Homo sapiens: one gene and its partners. The protein of the gene in region 1 purifies or fractionates together with the protein of each later gene. This does not show direct contact. Each region holds a gene or a part of one and is shown on either strand. Other genes may lie near its edges.

The links.
Region 2: the proteins of CUL5 (region 1) and RAB40C purify together in Homo sapiens (affinity purification with mass spectrometry; 6 studies listed by BioGRID and IntAct, with this or other methods). This does not show direct contact.
Region 3: the proteins of CUL5 (region 1) and SPSB4 purify together in Homo sapiens (co-immunoprecipitation; 5 studies listed by BioGRID and IntAct, with this or other methods). This does not show direct contact.
Region 4: the proteins of CUL5 (region 1) and ASB13 purify together in Homo sapiens (affinity purification with mass spectrometry; 5 studies listed by BioGRID and IntAct, with this or other methods). This does not show direct contact.

Annotation. Positions count from the first base shown.
Region 1 is NC_000011.10:108,088,596-108,093,238, reverse strand, and holds part of CUL5 (cullin-5), read right to left. Parts: coding exon 4,580-4,643; intron 3,748-4,579; coding exon 3,616-3,747; intron 1-3,615. UniProt on the Homo sapiens protein: Core component of multiple cullin-5-RING E3 ubiquitin-protein ligase complexes (ECS complexes, also named CRL5 complexes), which mediate the ubiquitination and subsequent proteasomal degradation of target proteins.
Region 2 is NC_000016.10:596,074-600,716, forward strand, and holds part of RAB40C (ras-related protein Rab-40C), read left to right. Parts: intron 1-4,643. UniProt on the Homo sapiens protein: RAB40C small GTPase acts as substrate-recognition component of the ECS(RAB40C) E3 ubiquitin ligase complex which mediates the ubiquitination and subsequent proteasomal degradation of target proteins.
Region 3 is NC_000003.12:141,060,855-141,065,497, forward strand, and holds part of SPSB4 (SPRY domain-containing SOCS box protein 4), read left to right. Parts: intron 1-4,643. UniProt on the Homo sapiens protein: Substrate recognition component of a SCF-like ECS (Elongin BC-CUL2/5-SOCS-box protein) E3 ubiquitin-protein ligase complex which mediates the ubiquitination and subsequent proteasomal degradation of target proteins.
Region 4 is NC_000010.11:5,663,145-5,668,439, forward strand, and holds the start of ASB13 (ankyrin repeat and SOCS box protein 13), read right to left. Parts: upstream 3,452-5,295; 5' UTR 3,408-3,451; coding exon 3,365-3,407; intron 1-3,364. UniProt on the Homo sapiens protein: May be a substrate-recognition component of a SCF-like ECS (Elongin-Cullin-SOCS-box protein) E3 ubiquitin-protein ligase complex which mediates the ubiquitination and subsequent proteasomal degradation of target proteins.

The DNA.
Region 1 (4,643 bases):
CAAAGAAAAGATGCTTACTCTGTCAAGTTACACAAGAAGGCAAAAGCTATTCAAACTACTCTTTATTAACAGCTTTACTGTGTCAGATAATTTATCTACCATAAAATCTACTATTTTAAAGTATACAATTTGGCTGGGCTCATGCCTGTAATCCCAGCACTTTGGGAGGCTGAGGCGGGTGGATCACCTGAGGTCAGGAGTTCAAGACCAGCCTGGCTAACATGGTGAAACCCATCTCTGCTAAAAATACAAAAATTAGCTGGGCATGGTGGCATGCGCCTGTAATCCCAGCTACTCAGGAGGCTGAGGCAGGAAAATCGCTTGAACCTGGGTGGCAGAAGTTGCAGTGAGCCAAGATCGCACCACTGCACTCCAGCCTGGGCAACAAAGTGAGACTCTGTCTCAAAAAAATATAAAAAATAAAAATAAAAATAAAATATACAGTGTAATGAAGTTTAGTATATCTACAGAACTGTGCAACCATCACCACTATCTAATTTTAGAACATTTTCATCACCCCAAAAAGAAACCCCATACTATTTACAGTCACTCGTCATTTCCCCTCCTGGCCCCAACTCCTGGAATTTGTGGATTTGCCTATTCTGGACACTTCACATTAGTGGAATCATACGATATGGTCTTTGGGATTGGCTTCTTTCACTCAGCATTATGTTTTCAAAGTTCACCTAATATTGCAGCATGTATTATTAGTTTATTCCTTTTTATCACAAAAAATATTCCATTGTATGGATAAATCACATTTTATTCATTAGCTCACTGACATTTTGGGTTGTTTCCACTTTTTGACTATTATTAGTAATCTTGCCATGAACATTTGTTTACAAGTTTTTACATGAAACATGTTTTCATTTCTCTTCAAATGAATTACCTAAGAGTGAAATTGCTGGGTCAGCTCTACGTTCAACATTTTAAGGAACTGCCCAACAGTTTTCCAAAGTGTCTGCACCATCTTATGTCTCCACTAGCAACTTACGAAGGTTCCAATTTCTCCTCTTCCTTACTAGCATTTGTTATCATCTGTCTTTATTTTAGCTACCCTAGTGGGAATAAAGTAGTATCTCTTTGTGTTTTTTTTGTTTTTGAGAAAGGGTCTCACTCTGTTGCCCAGGCTGCAGTGCAGTGGCACAATCTCAGCTCATTACAACTTTGAACTTCTGGGCTCAAGCAATCATCCCATCTCAGCCTCCTGAGTAGCTAGAACCACAGGCACACATCACCATGCCTAGCTGATTTCTGTATTTTTTGTAGACATGGAGTATTGTTATTTTGCCCAGGGTAGTTTCTAACTCCTGGCTTCATGCAATCCTCCCACCTCAGCCTTTCAAAATATTTGGGATAAGCAGGAGCCAACATGTTGAGCATTTCACTTGCATTTCACTAATGACTAATGATGTTGAGTATCTTTGCATGCACTTATTGGCCATCTGTCTATCTTCTGTGAAGAGATGTCAATTCGAATCCTTTGCCTGCTTTTAATTATTTGTCGTGTGTGTGTGTGTGTGTGTGTGTGTGTGTGTGTGTGAGTGAGAGAGACAGGATCTGACTCTGTTGCTCAGGCAGGAGTACAGTGGTAAGATCTCTGTTCAATGCAACCTCCACCTCACAGGCTCAGGCGATCCTCCCACCTCAGCCTCCCAAGCAGCTGGGACTAAGGTGCATGCCATCACACCCAGCTAATTTTTTAAATTTTTGTAGAGATGGGGTTTCACCACGTTGCCCAGGCTCATCTCAAACTCTGAGCACAAGCCATCTGCCCTCCTCAGCCTCCCAAAGTGCTGGGATTACAGGTGTGAGCCACCATGCCTAGCCTTGTTTGTCATTTTACTGTTGGGTCTTGATATTTTTTTTTTAACAAAGAAATAACATAGGCCGGGTGTGGTGGCTCACGCCTGTAATCTCAGTACTTTGGGAGGCCGAGGCAGGCGGATCACTTAAGACCAGGATTTCAAGACCAGCCTGGCCAACATGCAAAACCGTGTCTCTACTAAAAATACAAAAATTAGCCAGGCGTCATGGCACAAACCTGTAGTCCCAGCTACTTAGGAGGCTGAGACAGGAGAATTGCTTGAATCTGGGAGACAGAGGTTTCAGTGAGTCAAGATTGCACCACTGCAATCCAGCCTGGGTAACACAGCAAGACTACATCTCCAAAAAAAAGAAAAAAAGAAAGAAAGAAAGAAAATTTAATTCTAAAGGTTTCTCGTAGTAAATATGTATTAGTTTTGCTATTTTCCCCTTTTTCCTATATACTTATAAGTGACAGTAAGAGTTTTGAGTCTTTTGACAATAGTTTTAAAAAGTCACAGAATAATCATTCTTTTTCCTACTAAGCAGTTTCAGTTAGCACAGTAATTTTTACTATCCTAAAGTTCCATGCGAAGGGCTAGCTATAAGTTAAAATATCTGTAGGTCTCTCTCGTGTGTGCTTGCTCGCACTCTCTCTCTCTCCATATATATGTGGAGAGAGTTATATACATACACAGAAATTAAAGATATTTACTTTAATAATTAAAACAAAAAAAGAACTCAAAATACTTTATATGGGAATTTAGTTATAATCAGCATTGATTACCCTAAATAGGCCATCATTTAAAGGTTCTTTTTGCTATACAGAAGTATTTATTGTTATCATTTATAAACATCTCTAAAGTTAAGCATTTAGTACTGAAAATACCTTAAAGATATAATAATTTGTCCTGCAGTCTATTTATTTATTTTATTTTTCTTGAGATGGAGTCTTGCTCTGTCACCCAGGCTGGAGTTCAGTGGCTCGATTTCAGCTCACTGCAAGCTCCGCCCCCCAGGGTTCATGCCATTCTCCTGCCTCAGCCTCCCAAGTAGCTGGGACTACAGGCCCCCCACCACCACGCCTCGTTAATTTTTTTGTATTTTTAATAGAGACTGGGTTTCACTGTGTTAGCCAGGATGGTCTCGATCTCCTGACCTTGTGATCCACCTGCCTTGGCCTCCCAAAGTGCTGGGATTATAGGTGTGAGCCACCGTGCCCAGCCCCTGTAGTCTATTTATTAATAAGGTCAGTTTAAATGAGAGTTGAGGTACAAATGGGAGTGAAACAGTAGAAACAACTCAAGAACAAAGATACTTTACTGAAAGTATTAAGAACATTTATTAGATATCACTTTATTTTATATAATTGATGGTATATTCTTTTTTTTTTGAAATGGAGTCCCACTCTGTTACCCAGGCTGGAGTGCAATGGCACGATCTTGGCTCACTGCAACCTCCACCTCCTGGGTTCAAGTGATTCTCTTGCCTCAGCCTCCCAAGCAGCTGGAATTACCGGAGTGCACCAGCACATCCAGCTAATTTTTGTATTTTTAGTAGAGACGCGGTTTTGCCATGTTGGTCAGGCTAGTCTTGAACTCCTGACTTCAGGTGATCCACCTGCCTCGGCCTCCCAAAGTGCTGGGATTACAGGTATGAGCCAGTGCGCCCGGCCTAACTGACGCTATATTCTTATAAAATGTTTCCTACTTCTTTGACATTAACAATATCTCCAAAATGTATTACTTAAGCACACATATAAATGATGTAATGTATTAGAAAACCAAATATTTAAAAAAATTTACTTACTCTTAGCCACTCTACCATGTTTTCTTCAATTTCACTATCGGCAGAGATGTCTAATATAAGACGTCGTGTCAAATGAGCTTTATGATACCTCATAAAAACATCTTTGTTCTGTACATACTTAAGTACCAAGAGCTGTATGAAAAATAAAGTTACTTTCAGTTCTTATATACTCTTACCATCTCTCGAATTTAGACCTTTCTATATCCACCAATTGTCACAAGTCAGAAACTTTTATGAGCATATACAGATAGAGGCCTACTGAATTATCCATCTCTGAGAAATACCCAGTCCTGATACACTACTTTAAAGGTTAGCAAAACTGAGACTATAACCAAATTGTTAGTCGGTCTAAATATCAGTTTTTTAGATTTTGTATAAAATGCAACGATATACTTTACATGAAAAAAATCAATGTCCCCCTGCAAAGTGTCTCTTCTACTTATCTTTTTCACTTTTTTTTCTGACACTAGTCATCTCTCTCGGCCTTTCTGTCTACACTTGCCCAATATCTTATTTTTTTTCTTGTTTGTATTCCTGGGCTTACATCATTACACTAACAACTGGGTGACAAAGATGAAAACAACTACTTAATCTACTCTCATTCATCCCTTGCTATCTATCTTGGACTCTCACAAAAAGGAAGGAGTGAAAAACTCCCAATCTGTCAACTATCATTCCAAATTTGTTGGAATGATATGTCCTGTATTAGTAGCTAGAACTTAATTCCTAAAAATAACCAAGAAAGGAGAGGAATTAAATGGTATTCCTTTCAAGAAGCTGTAGAATAAAAATTTTCAGAAAGAAAAATAACCCCCCGAGAGGTCTTGCACTGCAAATCTTCGTAACATTAGTTCTTTACAGATAATACATTTTTAAATTGATACTATCACAGAAAGTCCTATAAGCAAAACACAAATTCAAAGTAAGGTAATTTTAAAAGTTGAAATACAAAAAATTCATGTACCACTTCTTTAAGCTTTGCTTCAATCTCTTCAGAGGTTAGTTTTTTGCTTAATGGTGTTTTTCTT
Region 2 (4,643 bases), on another chromosome or scaffold:
CTCACAGGCAACAGGGCAAATGCTTGCATGGCAGGTGCACGGCAGTGCCAGCCAGGTCTCTCGCAGGGTGGTGTGGACACAGATGACTCGTGTCGAGCACACGTGTTGTGGCCTGCACGATGAGCTAAATTGAACAGTGTTTCAGGAAGGAAGCCACATCGGGGAGCTGAGAGGTGGGCGGGAAGGACACAAGGGAGGGATCTGGGTCCTCGCAGGTACTTTTGCCTCTTGTTCTATTTGAAGATTGCAGCTGAGAAGGCGCGAAGCTGCTGGTCCCTGAAAAGCTGCCGCCTACCCTGGTCTGGAGCCCCTGCGAGCTGGCGTAGAGCAGGAAGGGGTTGCATCACAGCTGAGTCCTCCCCTGCGCAGCACATGGTACGATGCCACCCCACCGAGGGCCGTTCTGGGGCCCAGGGGCCACGTCAGCCAGGGTGTCATCCGCCGGGCGTTTGGAGTAAGCAGGGAAAGGTGTCGGCGTCCAGCATCCTGGTGCGGAGAACGCTGCCGAACCACTGTGAGAAGGCGGGGAGACTGCTTGTCAGGCTGAGCTGACTTCCTGGGCGGTCGGGAGAAGGATGTGCAGACTGTGGAACTGGCGGGTGTCAGGGACCAGAAGTTACGAAGGCGGTGGGAAGAGGAGCAGCTGTGGGAAGAAGGACTGGCTGCCAAGACCATGGGCTGTGGGCATCCTCAGGGCAGGAGCTGGGTGGAAGAGGGGCCTCTTCAGTCCTCTTGGCAGTGAAGGTAAACAGATGTCAGCAGGGTGGACTCGCACTTTGAGCCTAAGGTAGCGAGGAGGCTTCTGAGCCGACCTGGGGATGGCGGCGCACTCTGATACAGGCAGTGCGCGGCTGTCTCGTGCTGAGATCAGGATTTTGAGTAAAGCAGAGATTTCTGGACGTTTGTCCTTCAGAAATTAGCGGAGGGACAAGGGCATTGGCGCTGTGGAGAGGTAGGGACCCATGGGTATGGGGCGGAAGACCAGGGCACGACCAGACACCGCCAGGGTGCTGCACATGTAGGTAGCAGGGGGAGGTGGTCCAGGCAAGATGGGATGGGAGGGGCTCAGGAGCAGCCAGGTTCTAGTGCTGGTGATGAGGTGGGTGGTGGCAGGGGCATGTGGAAGGGTCTTCTGACCATGGCTTACAGAGGGCTTGGTGCTGGGGGGCCTGGAGTTGTGGAAAGGGTGAAGGGAAGAGTTGGTCCCATATTCCCAGATGGCAGAGTGGAAACAGAAGCACTCGGCCCCTGAGCAGCCTTCGCCGTCTTTACAGTGAACACAGTCCTCAAACCAAACTGGGAAGGATTCGAATCCTGGATGGGTGATGTGGTCCTGGCTGTGTAAACTGACCCTGATGAAAGACATGCCCATCCTGTGAGAGGGACAGCCATCTAGCATCTTTTTTTTTTTTTTAATTTTTATTTTTTGAGACAGAGTCTTGCTCCGTTACCCAGGGTGTAGTTCGATGGCACTATCTTGGCTCGCTGCAACCTCTTGAGCCTCATGGGTTCAAGCGATTCTCCTGCCTTGGCCTCCTGAGTAGCTGGGATTACAGGCATGCACCACCACACCTGGCTAATTTTTTACATTTTTAGTAGAGACAGAGGTTTTGCTGTGTTGGCCAGGCTGGTCTTGAACTTCTGACTTCAAGCAATCCGCCCGCCTCAGCTTCCCAAAGTTGGTGGAATTACAGGCATGAGCCACTGTGCCCAGCCCAGCTCAGCATCTTTGGAAAAGAGCAGAGGGCTGGGCACGGTGGCTCACACCTGCAATCTCAGCACCTTGGGAGGCCGAGGTAGGCGGAGTGCTGGAGCCCAGGAGTTTGAGGCCAGCCTGGGCAACACAGTGAGACCCCATCTCTACAAAAAAAAAAAAAAAAAAAAAAAAAAAGGCCGGGTGCAGTGGCTCACACCTGTAATTCCAGCACTTTGGGAGGCCAAGGTGGGTGAATCACGAGGTCAAGAGATTGAGACCATCCTGGCCAACATGATGAAACCCCGTCTCTACTAAAAATACAAAAATTGGCCAGGCATGGTGGCTCACGCTTGTAATCCCAGCACTTTGGGAGGCCAAGGCAGGTGGATCACGAGGTCAGGAGATCAAGACCATCCTGGCTAACATGGTGAAACCCTGTCTCTATAAAAATACAAAAAATTAGCTGGGCATGGTGGCGGGCACCTGTAGTCCCAGCTACTTGGGAGGCTGAGGTACGAGAATGGCGTGAATCCAGGAGGCAGAGCTTGCAGTGAGCCGAGATCACGCCACTGACTCCAGCCTGGGTGACAGAGCGAGACTCCACCTCAAAAAAAAAAAAAAATACAAATACAAATACAAAAATTAGCCGGGCGTGGTGGCGCATACCTGTAGCCCCAACTACTTGGGAGGCTGAGGCAGGAGAATTGCTTGAACCTGGGTGGCGGAGGTTGCAGAGAGCTGAGATTGTGCCACTGCACTCCAGCTTGGTGACAGAGCGAGACTCTGTCTCACAAAAAAAAAAAAAAAAAAAGAAAAAAGAAAATTAGCTGGGTGTGGTGGTGCACGTCTGTAGTCCCAATTACTTGGGAGGCTGAGGTGGGAAACTCACTGGAGCCTGGGAGGTGGTGGCTGCAGTGAGTCTGACTGTTGCACTACGTTCCAGCCTGGGTGACAGAGTGAGACCCTGTCTCAAAAAATAAAAAATAAAGAAAAGAGGATGGAAGAAGAGAAGAGCTGAGTCCTGGAAATGGGCAGGTACTTTACAGTTTGTACAGCGGCCGGATGTAAGAACCTCATGTCAACCCTGAGTGAAGGTGTAGGCCGGGCGGTCAAGCACAGCACTCTCCAGCAGCTCCAGCAGCGTGGGTAACCCGGTGGGAGCCTGTGTGCTGCTTTCCCTGCCCGGGGCCGGCGGCTGCTGCTGGGCTTTCGCCTGACTTCCTGGTCAGCAACGTTGTCGGCCACCTGGGCACAGCAGGTACAGCCTGTGTGTCAGACCTAGCTGGGAGGGGCGGTAATAGGGTAGATGACATCAGGATTCAGGACTCTGAACACAAACACAGTGACACTGATCAGGGTTGCCGAGGTGCTGTGTTTCGGTCCAGAAAGTCACTGCTGCAGGGGAGGGGAGTATGGTCACAGCCCAGGCCCCGGCCCCGGCCGAAGCTGCCACTGACAGGAGACCCTTCTCTGCCTGTGCCACCAGCTTTGCTCCGAGGGGTGTCTGTGTCCTCAGGCTCTGCCAAGGCAGTGTCAGGCTGATGCCTGCCCGTGTCGGCCGGCCACAGCCCTAGTGGCTGCCCGCAGAGTCTTGCGCCCACCTGATTCCTGCCTGAGAGGAGCCGCCAGGTCAGCTGATGCCAGCAGGACCCACTTCACCAGGTCAGCAAGGAGGAGGCAGCTTCCCTTGGGGCCACGCCGTGCCTCCTCCGTGTGCGCTGCTGCCATGGCTGCTTCTGTCGATAGGCATGTACGTGAAAATGCACACCCGTGGGTGTTCGCTACTGTCAGCGTGGATTCAGCAAGGTTTTGTTCCCTCGTGGCATCAGTCAGCGTGGATTCAGCAAGGTTTTGTTACCTCGTGGCATTAATCAGCGTGGATTCAGCAAGGTTTTGTTCCCTTGTGGCATCAGTCAGCGTGGATTCGCAAGGTTTTGTTCCCTCGTGGCATCAGTCAGCGTGGATTCGCAAGGTTTTGTTCCCTCGTGGCATCAGTCAGCGTGGATTCGCAAGGTTTTGTTCCCTCGTGGCATCAGTCAGCGTGGATTCGCAAGGTTTTGTTCCCTCGTGGCATCAGTCAGCGTGGATTCGCAAGGTTTTGTTCCCTCGTGGCATCAGTCAGCGTGGATTCGCAAGGTTTTGTTCCCTCGTGGCATCAGTCAGCGTGGATTCGCAAGGTTTTGTTCCCTCGTGGCATCAGTCAGCGTGGATTCGCAAGGTTTTGTTCCCTCGTGGCATCAGTCAGCGTGGATTCGCAAGGTTTTGTTCCCTCGTGGCATCAGTCAGCGTGGATTTGCAAAGTTTTGTTCCCTTGTGGCATCATACTCCTTTCCTGTTTGGTTTGGGACTCCCATGGCCCCCTTGATGTTGGAGCCTCTTCAGGTGGCACCTGCGTCCTGGGCTATGCCCTGAGTTCCCGGAGCTCCCTGTGTCCTGGAACAGTCTGTACTTCCAGCAGATGTGGGTCCTGCCTGCCCTGGAAACGGCCATCTCTCTGAAGAGCCTGTGTCCTCCTGGTGGGGAGGGATAGCTAGTATGTCAGCTTCTTAAATTACTTTATTAAAAATTGAGTATATGCAAAATAGTAGTCATAATAATAGTAATAGTAGCAAGTGCAAAGTGTAAGTAATAGAAATGGATGTCACCTAACCTGCCGAGTTTAAAACATTGTTGTTGGACTTTTTTAAAGAGCTTTGGTGCCGGATGGGCACGGTGGCTCACGCCTGTGATCCCAGCACTTTGGGAGGCCGAGGCGGGCGGATCACAAGGTCAAGAGATCAAGACCGTTCTGACCAACATGGTGAAACCCCGTCTCTACTAAAAATTCAAAAATTAGCTTGGCCTGGTGGCATGCACCTGTATTCCCAGCTACTCAGCAGGCTGAGGCAGGAGAATCGCTTGAACCTGGGGAGGCGGAGGTTGCAGTGAGCCGAGTTTGCACCACTAC
Region 3 (4,643 bases), on another chromosome or scaffold:
TTCTTTTTCAGTATACATTGAGTATCTTTTCAAAGGAACCATTTGTTTTTGTGTAAACTGTTGATATCTTTTCATATTTTGTACTTGTATTCATTTGTAGGAGTTTGACATATATTTGTTGGTAATTTGTGTTGCAAATTTTTTCTTATGTTAAAACAAGTCTAACTTCTTTTACAAGTGCTTTCAGCTACACCGTTTTGTTATTTCCCATTTTCATTTCTTGTTTTACATATTTCTGTCTTCTCCCCCATTAAATGATTATATGGTTTATGTTTTATGTGTTTTTAAAAATTTAGTTACTTATGCATTTAAAGTATATTTAGTGATATGTGAAAATGCAAATTACATAATTTTTAGGTGAAATAATCTAAATAAAGGCCCATTATACCAATTTTTAAAAAGAAAATTCATTATAATTTATAGACCAAAAAAAAAGAGAGAATAAAGCAAAATTCCTCCAAAAGCTGACAATGTTTATATCTGGTTAATGAGATAGGAGAAAGAGGTGAATTCTAGTTTTTGTCCTTTTTTTGTATTCTCTAAAATTTAGACATTTATTTAACCTTTTCTAATTAATGAGCTTTATTTCTTCAGAATAGTTTTAGATTTAAAGAAAAACTAAACAGATAGTACAGAGAGGTCCCATATGCTCACTCCATTTATCACCCTAGTTTCCCCAATTATTAGCATCTTACATTAGTATGGCACATTTATCACAACTAATGAACCAGTATTGATACATTATTATTAACTTATTTTAATAATTAATATTAATAATTGTTATTAACATATTTTTTCAGATTTCCTTTTTTTCTCAGATTTCAGTTTTTACCTAATATCCTTTTTCTTCTCTTTCTTTCTTTTTCTTTCCTTTTCTTTCTTTCTTTTTTTTTTTTTTTGAGATGGAGTCTCCCTCTGTCACCCAAGCTGGAGTGCAGTGGCACGATCTTGGCTTACTGCAACCTCCACCTCCTGGGTTAAAGCAGTCCTCCCACCTCAGCCTCCAAAGTAGCTGGGACTACAGGCGTGTGCCGCCACACCTGGCTAATTTTATTTTTTTAGTAGAGACAGCATTTCACCATGTTGGCCAGGCTAGTCTTGAACTCTTGACCTCAAATGATCCACCTGCCTTGGCCTCCCAAAGTTCTGGGATTACAGGTGTGAGCCACCAAGCCCAGCCCCTAATATCCTTTTTCTGTTCCAGATCCCATCCAGGATACCACATTATGTGGAATTGTTAGGTCTCCTTAGGGCCCTCTTCACTATGATGGTTTCTCAGACTTTGGTTCCGATGACCTTGCCGGTTAGGTCAGGTATTTTGTGGGATGGCCTCCAGATGGAATTTGTCCTTTGTTTTTCTCATGATTAGAGTGAGGTTATGGGTTTTGGGGAAGACACCCAAAGGAAGATTTCATTATATCATATCAAGGGTACACACTATCAACATGATAGATTAATATAATAGTAATATAATAATATAACATAATATAATATGATACATTACATGATTAGCTTTAATAGTTTATATGTTTTATTGATTTTGTTTTGTTTTTGTGGTAGTTTTTCCCAAAGAACCATCTCTTTAGTTTTTGCTTAGTTCTATTATTTCCCTATTTTATTATGCTCCATTCATTTTTTAAAATTTAATAGCATAAATATATCAGCCATGATTTCCTCTGAGAACTGCTGTAGAGGCACCCCGCAGGTTCTAGTATGTGGAATGCTTTTTGTTATTGTTGTATTCCAGATATTCTGCAATTTCTATATGGATTTCTTTTTTGATCTGAGTTGGGGTCAAGTTGTTTAAAGAATTTTTTAAAATGCCTAAGTGATAGGATTTTGTGATCTATAATTTTGTGATTAATTTCTAGTTTTCCTTCTGTGTTATCAGATACTGTATTATTTTTGCTTTTTTTGAAGTTTTGTTTGTGACCTAATATACAGGAAAATTTTTTTGATCATTCCATGAACACTTGAAAAGAACATGCATTCTTTGTTTTCAAGGTATAGAATTTGATGAACACATTAGTTAGATCTGTCTTATTAATTATGTAATTTGGTTTTTCTATGTCTTTACTTAATTTTGGTCCACTGGTCCATCATGAGCTAGAAGAGGGAAATTAAAATTACATGCCTCTGATGTGTGTCTGTCTAAGGCCCCTCCTTATATTTCCTCTAGCTTTTGCTCTGAATTTTGGTGCTATTTGGTGAGTTCGGTCTTCAATTGTGGATCGCATTCTTTATTATTATTAAGTATTCTTGTCTCACTTAAAACCTTTTGTCCTGAAATCAACTTTACTTGCCTAATATTAAGATTACAGTGCCTGCTTAGTTTGAGTTCACACTTCCCTGTTATGTGTTTGCCCTTCCTTTATTTTCAAAATTGTTAAATCACTTTGCTTTGGGGAATGTCTCTTATATGTAGCATATGGTTGGGGGTTTTGTGTTTTTCCCCAGTCTTATAATCTTTTTTTAGCAGTTTACTATGGCCATTTAATGACATGGTCAATATTTCGGTCTTAGTTTTACTATCATATTTCATGCTTTTATGCCTTTTTGCCTCTCTTGCTTTCTAACAAAATCTTTCAGTATATGATCTGTTTTATTTTGTATTATGTTCAAGGTTTGTATCTGCAAGATGTGTATTTTTATTTTTAGTTCTGGAGGTTACCTTTATAACTAGCCAAAATGGATTTAATCTTTTGTTGAGACCATGCTAGGTGTCTCCCTTCTGAAATAATCAATCACAAAATTAGTTTACAAATTTGGTTCCCATTTTTATCTGCTTTGTGGCAGCTTTTTTCAGGTGAGTTTGCTTGGTTTGCCATGTTTTGTCCTGTTCGTTTATTCCTTTCTTTCTTCTATAGCATCTTTGACTATATCCTGTGCTGGTTCCTCTTTGAAAGAGGTAAACCTTCTTGGATCAGCATTTTGCAGGAGACACATGTGGAGGAGGTACCAAGAAGAGGGCAGGATTGCTCCCTGGTTCCCAGGAACTTTGTTCACAGGGTTGTTGTAGTGACTTCCTTTAGTCTTTGCTTCTACTCTGTCAGCAGAGTTCTGCAGCTGTGGGCTTCTCCCAATTCAGAGCCCTCCTCTCACTCTGCCTTGCCAACACACTGCTTCCTGTGAAGATGGCGGGTCTGTGGTTTCCTCTGTTGGCCCTGCCCTCCTCTTCCCCCAGGGTGTAGGAGGCAGCTCCCACTACCAGACCACATGCCCTGTTCCCATTTTTTCTGATAAGGGATCATTAGTTTTTTCCTTCAGGGAATGCCAGCTCCTGGCTGGCTCTGCCAGCTTTGTCTGAGATCTGCCACCACAGGTGTCTTCTCTAGGTGTTTTCTCACAGTATTTTTGATCTTCACTGCTTTTGGTAGCCCTTACCTGTTTTGGGCAGCCTTTCCTTATAAGCTGTGTTTCAGGTTATAAATGTGTTCTAGTTTGCTGAAGAAGGAGTTTGCATTTCTTTTTTTCTCCTGGATTTTGGGTGATTTCGGATATGAAAAGGAGTAACTTTATTCTGCTATCTTAAAACTGCCTAGTGTTGCAAATTGTTATGTGTTCTGGTATTCCCTCAGATTGAACATTAGCCAGAGCTCTCGGAATAGGGTCAACATCTGCTGAAGCTGGGATCTGACAATAGAGAGGGAAGAGTATGAGAGTTAAGAATAAAATGGAATGGTGAAAAACCCACAGGATACTTGTCTGTGCTGTGTGGCAGCAGAGTTCTTTTCGTCCCTACCTGGACTTTGGCTAGGGGTGTACCACTGTCTGGGTGGGAGGTTGAGGCTGGGGAGGGCAGGGCATGAAAAACACCCATCCATCTCCTCATCTGGCTCAGGAGAAGTTGTTCTAGGCCCAGCAGCTCTCAGGCCAGGGAGGGGAGGGCACACGCCTCTGCTCTGGACAGGGCTTGGCTCTCCATCTCTCTCCATACCCAGGGCCCGTCCAAGTAGTCCGAGCTCCTTGGGTTCTGTCTGGTTTCCTAGTGATGGTGGCCAATTCCTTCTCCATGAAAACCAGGATCCTGTCTCAGGGAAGGCAGTCTGGGGTCAGTGCTGTTAATGGTATTTACCTGATCGAACAAAGAGCTCACCCATCCAAAGGGAGGGGATCCACATGGGATGCCCAGAGAACAGAGCCAGAGAGGAAAACCTGTCGGCAGAGTTCCAGGACCCTTTATATTATGGTCTCTCAAGTTCCCCCATCACCAGAGGGAGGTGTTTTATCCTCATGTTTTTTACTGGCAAGAAATCTGGAGTATCCAAGAGGCTAGGAGGCTTTCCTGTGGACCCACAGTAGGAGATGGAGAGAGGGATTTGGACGCAGTTCTGTCTGGCTCCAGAGCCTGGACACCGGCTCCCTTATCCTTCCTCCTCACCTCTATTGACCTCCATTCACCTTCCCATGGAGCTCTCACCCCATCTTCCCACGCTGCCTGATGTCCATGTCCCTGGTGACCCTGCTGCACCTTGTTCTGTGTCTTGCCGCTCAAGCCTGGCTACATTTTAGGAGGTTATTTAGGCTCCCCAGGACTCCAGGGTTGGGAACCAATGGGCCACACCCTACAGCCCTGTGTCTTGAGCAGCTGTGTGCCCCCCAGCCTTGGCACAAGGCTTGTCCCCTGGGATCAAAAGCACCTG
Region 4 (5,295 bases), on another chromosome or scaffold:
CCTTCTTAGAGGGACAAAATGGTCAAAACTCAGTAAGAGTGGAGAAAAGAAAGGGAAAGAATAAATGAAAGCAGAAGACAAGGAGAAAAGAGGTGAAAATAGGTGGGCTAAGGAGTAAAGGAACTGGGAGAAAGGACCGAAGGTGTCAGGAGAGCTTGGTGAATAACAGGCATTTCCTTCCACCTGCAGGACGCTAAAACCACACTGGATTCGCTGCATTATCCTTCAATGTCTCCTCCCCTGACTCCCTCATCACTCACCCAATTATCTGCTACCCCGACTCCTCCCTTGCCCCTGGTCCACCCCAAAGGCTATGGCCCAGGGAGCATGGGGAGGGTCCCCCAGTCCCACCCTCAAGGCACTGTGGGAGCTCAGGCCCTGACTCAGGACCCCTGAGCTCTGATCCTGCATCCTCCCTGTCTCAGTTAAGGGACCTGAGGGACGCTTTTCACCCTAAATCACCTAAGCCTCAGTTTCCTTAGGACAGCAGGCAATGTCTCCCAGGGCTGCCGAGTCGAGGAGGAGGATAGAGGTACTGTTTTGCCCATAAACATGCTTCCTAAGCCTTTGTAACTTGCTAATTTCCTCTGATACTTCCATTGGCCCTAAATAGGCTTTTCTGGTGTGTCAACAGGCCCTCTTTGAATTCCTATTTTAGGATAAAATAGCCGCCCACTCCAAGTAACTCTCTACCCTTTAGAAATGCCCTGGACTGCTACCCTAGTGGATTCTCCCTCTCCCCGCTCTGACACTGAAATCAAGAGCGATAGAGCTGTGTTTCTGATTAAACACGGAGGATCTTCTCTGCCCCTCAGCAAAGATCTCACTCAACTGAGAGTACCTGGATGGGGAGACATAAATCCATATAAACAAGTAGAAAACAAACAGGCTGGGGAGTGATTTCCAGACCATCGGGGGAGCTGGAGAGCAGGCTGGTGCAGTGGCTAACCAGGATACAGAAGGCGGGCTTGGCACCCGGGGTTGGGACCAGCAAAGAGCAGGGAATCTGAACTACCCCTGGGAGGGCACTGAACGCAAAGGGATGCGCAAATCCCCATAAACAACAGGAAGACACCCCTGCCCCACCCCCACCCCGGCTTCCCAGAGCAGCAGCAGGCAGAGCTGGAAGACCCAAGGCTGCAGGGCACACGTCTCCAAACACTGAACCAGGAGAGAGAGAACACAGGACTCATTGCTTACCTGAGGGGCCTAAGAAGACTGTCTGGGGATAAATTAGGGATTAGGCATGGAGAACACCGAACCCACAGGTAAACAAAAAGAACACCCGCCATGTCCAAGAAAAGCAAGACATTACACAAAAAGAGAAACATAGTCCCCACATAGCAAGTGGCTCAGCTGCAATATTCACAGTCACAATAATGTCAACACTGAAATCTGATTTAAACAAAAACAATTCTACTGGAGGACCCTGGGGGGAACGTACGGGGGAGTGGGGGAGCAGCCAGTAGGTTAGAGGTTCATCTACCACAGAAGGACGTCCATAGGGAATGCAGAATTTCTTTATTTCTTTATTTATTTATTTTATTTATTTTTGAGACGGAGTCTCACTCTGTCGCCCAGGCTGGAGTGCAATGGCATGATCTCAGCTCACTACAACCTCTGCCTATCAGGTTCAAGTGATTCTCCTGCCTCAGCCTCCCCAGTAGCTGAGATTACAGGTGCCCGCCACTATGCTTGGCTAATTTTTGTATTTTTATTTATTTATTTTGAGACAGAGTTTTGCTCTTGTCACCCAGGCTGGAGTGCAATGGCCCAATCTCGGCTTACTGCAACCTCTGCCTTCCAGGTTCGAGTGATTCTTCTGCCTCAGTCTCCCAAGTAGCTGGAACTACAGGCACCCGCCACAATGCTCGGCTAATTTTTGTATTTTTAGTAGAGACGGGGTTTCGCCATGTTGGCCAGGCTGGTCTCGAACTCCTGACTTCAAGTGATCCACCTGCCTCGGCCTCCCAAAGTGCTGGCATTACAGGCATGAGAGACTGCGCAACAGCCCAAAACCTAAATGTTTTGGTCGCGGTACACCACACATCCAGAATTTGAGGTCAGAATGTTAAAATTGTCTAAAGCTCCTACGGTTCGCCTCTGGTGCTGCTGGAATGGCAGTATTGTTTTGGATCCAACACATTCAGCTTATTCATTACACTGGGAATAAAAAACATCAGCAGAACTTATTTGGGGAGAAATATATTAAATAAAAAATGACAATGTCAAAAATACCAGTGAACCTCAAAAGTTGCGGATTCATTAGTTTAAAATGTGCCTTTCTTCTACAGATGCATTCCATAACAAACGATGCAGAAGACATGCTCAGAAGTGATGCCATGAACAGAAATATTAAAATATGTGTTTAAATAAGCTTCTGCCGTTAGCTATTCACTGCTTACTCAATTAAGCTAATCAAATGCAGATCACAGTGTCAGGGTCAAAGTCTTGTGCTTGCCTGGACTGGAATGCCAAGTAAAAACACATGCTTATTAGATACCTTTGATCATGTCAAAGGTGGTTATTTTGCAAAGTCAATTAAAATATCTTTGCCTTGCTATGACTGCAACTTCCTCTTCAGCTAAATTTACCCTTAAGACTTTTCCCTCTTAGGTGCACTACTGTTTTTACCAGGATGAATATGCTTTAGATTTTTTTTTTCTTTTTAGGCTTTCATAGTGCTTCCGTCGCTCATTTCAGTGACCATATTATTGCTTCATAGGCAGCAAAAAAATTTGCTTCCCCAAAGAGTGTCCTTCCCTCAAATCCATTTCATTCTTGGGCTGCTCGGATTTTGGTAAAGTAGGCTGCGAACTGGGATGGCACTTTTCGGAGTGTGCCGGGGTGCCCCAAGGCCACCTTCACTGGAGCGGAGTCGGGGTCACGCGGACGCCTCTGCAGGATGCTCGGACACTGCGCCACGGCCTCACCCGCGCCAGTGGAGGGGGGTTTAGCTCTTACCGTGGGCTCGCGCCTGGCTTCCCCGAGAGGGAGCACCGTGGGCGTTTCCCAGGCTCTCCCCCGCCACTGGGCAACGGCCCCGCACGCGTCCCGCACCTTCCCCAGGGCGCGCGGCGCTCGGTGGGTTTGCGGTTGCGAAACCCCACACCTGGCGAGCCGCACGGACTGCAACCCCGCAGTGCGCTGGCCTGGGACAAGGCACCAGACATGAGAGCCCGTCTGGGATGCGCGGCACCACTGGGACCCTGCTTTCACCGCGGCCCACCCCGCCAAACGCCCCCGCCCACGGAGCCAGCGCGGGGCGCGCCACCACCTCCCCGGCGCAGGCCATCGGATACGCGGCCGGCCTCAGGAGCCGGCGCCGCTGCCTCGCTCTGACCTCCGCGGCGCCCGCACGTACCCACGTCGCCCAGGAAGCAGCCGTCCGCCGCCCGGGGCTCCATGCGGCTCACCGGCGGCCGCGCGGCGACTCTGGGCGCCGGGACCTGGGCCGGGCCGCGCGGGGCCGCTGGGCGGGGCCAGTCTGCGCTGGGCCGCGCGTCGTCCCGAGGCGACCGAGCCGGGAGTTGTAGTTCCCGCCGCCTTGGCGAGGTTCCCGGAGGCGCTGTCCCTGGGTCCGGACTCCGCTGTCGCTGCCCACCCCGCTTCGCCCGTCGCGCCGAGGAGTGTGTGTGCTTGCATCTGCAAACCGTGCGTCCCGTGCACAGAATACGTCCGGTGCAAAACGTGTCCTGTGCACTTGTCCTATGTAAACGTGTGTGTCCGTGTGCAAAACATGCATCCTGTGCATATGTCCTGTGCAAAACATGCGTCCGTGTGTAAACTTGTATCCATTGTAAGCATGCTTCCCTGTGTCCCTTTGCAAAGCATGGATATGTGTTTCCATGTGCAAAACATGTGTCCTGTACAAAACATGCATCCTGTGCATGTGTCCTGTGCAAGCGTGTCCTGTGCAAGCGTGTGCAAAACATGTGTCCATGTATAAACATGTATGTATTGCAAATGTGTCCTGTGCAAGCATGTGTCTGTGTCCACGTGCAAAGCATGCGTCTAGCTTCCAGAGTTCACTTGCATTGTACAGATGCTGATGATGCTCCAGAGTACTCGAGTTCCCCCATGCTTTAACTTTCAAGAACCGCTTCCCACCAGAGCCGGTGTTCATAATCACTGTTTCTTTGATCTTTCAAGATAATAATTTCAAATCGTTCAAATCAATTTCTTAATGCCTTTTCTTTACGGGTGGTTTTTAATCCAATGTTCCCCTAAGCTGCTTAGCAAATGGAAGCTGGGGCACAACCTGGCAGAAATGAAAAACCTGTTTCCTGTTTCCGGAATAATACCCAGTCAACAATTGAGTAAGGGATTTTTATTTTATTTATTTATTTTTGCAAAGCAGCTTCCCAAGTTTAGAAGGTTTAACCTTGTGAAAGTTCACTGTAGCCCTGTCAGGAGATTCGTCACTCACCTGACCTGTACTGAACCTCCATGCAGAAGTTAGTTTGGGCTCAAAAGTAAAAGTATCAGGAATCATCCAGTCTGGAAATAGGTGAGGCCTGGCAGAGCAGCCAGTTTGATCTCTCACACTACAAAGCTTCTGGGATGACCCAGGTCTCCATCTGCAGTCCAGACCGAAGGCACTATACCTAGGGGACATTGAACCATATCTTTTGGAAAGCAGAGCCCCTGGAAATGTGGAGCCCCAGGCCTGGGAATGGAATTTCAAGCCATTTGCACTGGGCATTTAGAGCCTTTTTGCCACTTTCTACCAAAATCAGGCTCCTGCATTTTTCTTGCCGGTTTTCTGCACTTTTTACTAAATGTAACAGATTTTTGTATCGTTATATTTACCATGGATGTTATGTTTTCCCCTGTGGCAATGTCGTGTTTGTATGATTGCATTTTCTTCAATATTTCTTCCTGGACGAAGTGTCATCTAAATTTTAGTATGATCATGTAGAACATATATATATATGTGTGTGTGTATATATTCATATGTGTATGTGTGTTATCCAAGTGTTTCCTAAACATATTAATAAGCAAGTATTTGCTTATTATTTGTTTTTCCTCCATTCTGTTGCTTGACCAAAATATTAAAAGATTTCATTACAGAAAAAGCTTTGCAAAGTTTACATATATATTCAGAAATGCATTCCCTGAAAGTATTTCCTTTTTCTTCAATATTTAGAATGTATTTCCCCAGCAAGAGCCAGAAAATATAAATTATTCTGTTCTGTTCTGTTGTTGTTGCTAAGTCTTTGAGTCCCATCTGGAATTCACTGCAATGTGTAGAATGAAAATATAGGAGCTCAGTTCATTCTTTTCTAAACTGAA